2 separate regions of the Homo sapiens genome follow, and region 1 is linked to region 2. Evidence: fine-mapped expression QTL. A gene starts in region 2. The other region holds a variant in brackets. All regions are shown on one strand. Distances are between the middles of the regions.

Region 1 (2,923 bases), 470 kb before region 2:
GCTCAAAATCATTAGTCATTAGGAAAATGCAAATTAAAACCACAATGACATGTCACTACATACCTACTTGATATCTAAAGTTTGAAAAATATCATTGACAATACCAAGTTTGGTGAATATGTGGTGCAACTACAACACTCATACATTGCTTGTGGTAATGCAAAATGGTACAGGCATTTTGGAAAAATGATTGGCATTTCCATATCCTGTTACACATACACCTACTTTGTAACCCAGCACTCTAATTCAGAATTATTTCCAAAGAAAAATTTCTCCATAAAATGATCTGAATGTAAATACATAAACCTTATTCATAGGAGCCAAAATCTGGAGCAAAGCTGAATAGCCATCGGTTTTGTAAATATATAAACAAATTGTGGCATTTTTGTATAATGAAATGCTACTTAACCATTAAAATAAACTATCAATACATAGAACAATATGGAAACATCCAAAAGGCATAATGCCAGAAGACACATATATTGTACAGTTCCATTTAAATGACATCTGAACAAGGCAAAAACTATGGAGACAGAAAATAGGTTCAAGGTCAGGTGTTGGGGTGGGAGAGTACAGGAGTAACTACAAAGAGTCATAAGGAAACTTTCTTTTGTGGTGAGGGAAATGTTCTATAACTTGATGGTAGTGTTAGTTAAAGGACAGTGTAAATTTGTCAAAGTTCATCAAATGGTACAATCAGAAGTAGAATTTTACTATATATAAATTACTCCCAAACATCTGATTTAAAAAAGAGGATACAATGTATTAGTAAATGCTAAAAGACTTCAGAGAATATAAAGAAATACAGGAAATGAAATAATGCATAGACCCCTTGTGTGCAAAAGGGATAAAAGACATTCAGATGTGGCTCTATAAGAAGGAGGTGACCATTCATTTCCTGGAGTAGACTAGTGTGGACCGTCATACTTCGTGGCTGGAAGGAGAAATTGATGTGGCAAGCATAGGAAAGTGAATAGACCATGGCCACTACAATTGAGGATATGTTAGAAAGTCATTAATTCAAAGTTGGTTAGGAAGTCATAAATTCAAAGTTTGTTAGGGAGAGTAAGGCCAGATTGGTCATGAATATGGTCATTATGTGGCTATGGATGTCTGATCTTACAGAGTGGCCAATTTAAACTAACAATTGACATTCATTGTACAAAGTTGAGGCCATAATGATCATTTTTGTAGTTAATTCATGGCTTATTCATATCAGTCTCCAAGCTGGATTCAGGCATTAAAGCTCACATAGAGGAATTTGCAGTAGGCAACTTGAATTCAACAAGCAGTGACCACATGATAAACATTAAGAAAAGCACTTAGCACATCTTAATTTATTCACACAATCATAACACAAGGTTAATATTATGTGCACTTAGGAAGAAACTGAGGATCATGTAGCTAGTACTGCTGGCTATTTCATGCCTCCTGCTCTTCAGGGCTATTGTATGAATTTTCCTTTTATTAAATTACTTATTCAGGAAACATTTTAAAATTATCAATTATATACTGCATCCAGTTAATAGTACAGGCCCATTTTAAACTCAAATCTTTGACTAAAACCCACAACTTCAAAAATTATCTGTGCTAATAAAGTAGAAAATAAGAGTCAAGAGGTCAAGAAAAAGTCTACATCATTTTGATTTTAATCCTGTATATATTTTATGTCCTTAAAAATATACTTAATGTTAATGCAT[C/T]AATCAAATGAGGACGTGGAATTAAATAATCTCCAAGGTTCTGTCATGCTATGTTGTTCTATGATTTCAACTTTACTCAGAATAGAAAAAAATTGGTGAAAATTATTCTAGATTTAACAGAGATTGGCTGGGTATGCTATATAGATTCTTCCTCTGGACTGTGATCTATTTTTCTCTCTCTGCCAGAAATATAGGCTACTGTTAAGCAAAAGCCGAGTCCCTCCCAGGTATTTAGGTTGGTGCAAAATTAACTGCGTTTTTGCCATTAAAAGTGGCAAAATACCTTTTGCGATTACTTTTGCACCAATCTAATAATACTTTTACCTGAAGGGAGCCCCCTCCCTGGATTGTATATTCCCACCCTCACATCTGTGTTCATTCCTGGACTGTATATTCCCACCCTCACATCTGTGTTCATTCCTGGATTGTATATTCCCACCCTCACATCTGTGTTCATTCCTGGATTGTATATTCCCACCCTCACATCTGTGTTCATTCCTGGATTGTATATTCCCACCCTCACATCTGCGATCATTCCTGGATTGTATATTCCCACCCTCACATCTGTGTTCACAGAGTGGCTGGTTGATGCTGAAATATAAGTGGGCCTTGTACTTCCACTTAAACTATCTCTGAACAGTCACTCCAGTTTCAGAGCTTCCCATGGATTTCTGAGGCTTCCTTTTAACTTGCATTGCAGTTCACCTTCTCTTTCTTCCCAGTCCCACTTCTCTCACATGAATTCAGGTGGAATCCCCTGGTTCATTCCACTCTAAAGTCCTTGCATCCAGATCTCCATCCAAAGTCCATGTTCCAAAAACTTGGGCAAGGATCTACGGCATAGATCAAATAATAATTAATTAATTATACGTAAGCACCATTTAAAACATGGTACAATTTAATCATTATATAGGAAAAGTAGAACTGATCTGAATTTGTCATCTTTTTCCATATATATCTTTATTTAAAACATTACGTAAGATAGTATGTCATATTTTTAAGCTAATATTGAGAACAATTGGTCAAAAATAACTAAACACCAATATCCATTTGTATACTGCTCTATAGTTTACTTATGTGCAAAGCATTTTACAAGTGTAGTAAGAGATATCATGAATTGCATCATATAGCCTCCTGAGAACTCTCAAAAATAAAATAATCAGAGAGGGAGGCAGAGAAAGATGGCCAAATAGAAGCCTCCAATGATTGCCACCCCCACCCCC
Region 2 (2,923 bases):
TAGACACTTGGCACCCCACAATTTCCACTCTACCTCTAAATCAGTTTAATCCACGTTATATGTCAGAGTACAGAAGTTAGGTGATATATTTAAAATTATAGTTTAGCATTTGAAAACTACCAAAAAACTGAATCAGGAAGCTCGAGTCTGATTAAGTGGGATGAAATTGTGATCTGAAATTTAAGCCAGTCTCTCCAAGAGTTGAACCACCTAAGGCGGAGTTCAAACAAAGGCTGAAGCAGGAAGGTTTGCTGGGGGAAATCAGTGGGGTCCCCTGAGCAGCGTGAAGTCATCAGGCCAAGGTAATGCTTCCCAGAGGTGTAACCGCTGTGTGTGTGTGTGGCGTGGCGGGGGGGGGCGGGGGGAAGGGGGCGGAAACGCGCAGTACTTTGCAGGTCAGCCCCTGGGGACTGGGATGGCTGACTACCTGGTATTGCACTAAAATGCTTGACCCCTAATCACATCCCCCAACACTACACCTTGTGCGACGTGATGAAAGCATCATTTCCAGTTTATTCGACTTTTCTGTTTAGACTTATTCATTATAGCCCATATATGTGATAAGGACTAAGAACCCAGTCTTCAAGGTCCTGTCGAGTTCCAAAGAAGTCCACCCCTCAGAAGATCCTTGGAAGGGGAAGAAGGAAAAAAGAAAGAAAGAAAAATCTGTTTTACCCTATAACAATTTCAGCGCAATCTCCCAAGACCAAGTTGGTTAATTTGTAAAGTCACTCTCATTTTTTCCTCAACAGTGCCACCTACTGTCCATTTTCAGTCATCAGCAGGCTTGTTGGCAAGGTCCAAGAGAAAGAAAGGAGGCGGAGTGGTGGGGGGAGGAGTAACCAAAAAACGAACTCTACCCAGCCTTGGGGCATTGTGAAAACGACGAGGAAAGGCCATCTCCAAGCAAGACATATTTGTCCTCGTCAACTTTGCAGAAGGCTTGCAAAAAGCAAAAGCCAGTTAAGCCATTTCCTTCAAGATGGCTAAATATAAGTCCTCCAGAAAACAATTTTTATTATTTTATTTTTAATGCGCGCTGTTTGAGTATGTTTACGTTAGGGGACCAGATTGAGCAAAAATATACATATAATTACTTTTCTATGTTTTCCGCCCACCCACGGCAGAAACCTCTTTATGAGAAAGGCTTTGACACTTGACGTCAGCTCAGAAACTTTTGAGTTGGCGGGAAGAAAGGGTTAACAAGTGGTGGACCAGCGCGATCTTTTTAGAGTCCCAGCCGGCTGTCGAAGGCTCCAGGTACACACACACACGCACACACTTACACACACACACACACACGTGCACACACCCCTCCCAACTGTTCCTCCTTGGGTCGGTTACTTAGCTGAAGGGCACCATTTGGCTTTAAAACAAATTACTTCAGCGCCACAGGGAGTTTATCGCTTGGAGGGAACTTGTAACGCGGGAGTTCAGGGAAATCCAAGAGGCGAGGGCTCCCACCTCCGCCGCCAGAGGAAAGTAAGGAATCAGGTGGTGGCCCCCTATGTGTCTTGCATTTCTCTGCACACGTTAGCAATCAAGTTAATTGAATTCATTGGAGTTTAGAACCGGCCTGTAGCTCAGAGAAGGCTTTGAATGGCCAATTTCTCTCTCTCCCTCTCCCCCTCCCCGCCTCCCGCTCGCCCGCCCGCCCGCGCTCCCAGTTCCCTCCCCTCAGGGTTCCCCAGTCCACACCTCCCTCTCCACTTCCCTCACCCCCCCACTCCCTCCGCCGCCCTATTAAAACACCCACCAGCTCACTTGTTAAGACCCCCTTAAGTTGGAGGAGGCAGAAGGGCAACAACGGCGGGGAAGGAGAAGTCAAGACGTCTGGAAAGAATTACCCAGTCCTGGCTTCGAGCAGCCCATTGAACCAGAGACTTGAAACAGCCCCAGCCAAAGACTTTTCTCCCAATTCTGCGCTTCCTGGGTTCTGCTGAGTCTTCCACAGGCTTTTTTTTTTTTTTTTTTTTTTTTTAAGACGAAAAAGAGATTTTCTGTTATCGGGGGCAGAAAGACTGAAGCCCAAAAAAAAAAAAAAAAAAAAAAGAAAAGAAAAGAAAAAAGAAAAGTTAATTTATTTTTAAAGCATAATTTTTTTAAGAATTAGACTGAAGTGCAACGGAAACATAAAGAGAATATTAGTGAAATTATTTTTTAAAGTGGGGAAGAATCAAACATTTAAGACTCCCCTATCCTTTTTAAATGTTGTTTTTAAATTTCTTATTTTTTTTGGCCGGTCGTCTCAAATTCATCTGATCTCTTATTACCTCAATTTTGGAAACTGCCCGCCACCGACCCTCCGGGACCACACAGACAGGCTGAGGACGACTTTATGACCAAGAGCTGAACAAGGTACGTTACACTGGCGCGTTTTGGTGAAGGATGAAGGTCCTCCAACAGGCCAGGGAGAAGGAAGACATCCTTATAATTGTTTTAAAATTTTTAAGCCAGTTTCGATAGAAAAGTTGGAAGTTTAAAAATTTCCAACAGACTGAAGATCAGGGAATATTTCAGGTCACTGTCAGGCTTAGCAACATAGCCCTCTTTTCCCATTTCTGCGGCTCTCGCCAGAAATCCGCTGCCTTTCTGGGGACACAGGTAGCCTCTCTGCCTGGGAAAGGCTGCACGTCCTCAGATGTACTTTTCCATTTTGCATCTTCCGGAGCAGCAGAGGGGCTCCAGAGTTAGGAAACAAGAATTCCCAATGTAAGGAAAATGCATTCTGCACAGCCGCCCCACCCCTTCCCTTCTTTTTTTCCCACACACACACACACACACACACACTGTGGGGAGAAAAACTGGAATAGCCCAGCGCGTTTTACTTCTAAGTGAAAAAGTCGCTTCTTGCTGGGAATGCAAAGGGTTAAGCAATCTGGGCTTCCAGCTCCGACAAGCTGGGACCCTGGAGAAGGAGGGT

Alleles and levels. Positions count from the first base shown, and alleles are read on the strand shown. Sizes are in standard deviations (SD) of each study's normalised expression.
With allele T in place of C in region 1, the expression in hypothalamus of the gene that starts at base 1,771 in region 2 is lower (large effect, 0.82 SD a copy in GTEx).

What was found. PIP is the estimated chance that this variant, and not a neighbour inherited with it, causes the effect. A credible set is the group of variants that fine-mapping cannot tell apart.
Region 1: its variant is the best candidate, but not a certain one, in a credible set for the expression of HAS2 in hypothalamus (GTEx, PIP 0.62).

What each region holds. Positions count from the first base shown.
Region 1 is chr8:122,108,115-122,111,037 of GRCh38, reverse strand. No RefSeq gene overlaps it. Among named protein-coding and RNA genes, the nearest start is that of LINC02855, 410 kb to the right of the region's middle. The variant C/T (reference allele first, on the strand shown) is at 1,701.
Region 2 is chr8:121,640,288-121,643,210 of GRCh38, reverse strand. It overlaps HAS2 (hyaluronan synthase 2), which reads left to right and starts at 1,771. Exons shown (of 4, transcript NM_005328.3): 1 at 1,771-2,358. It also overlaps HAS2-AS1. RefSeq lists an enhancer at 489-1,112.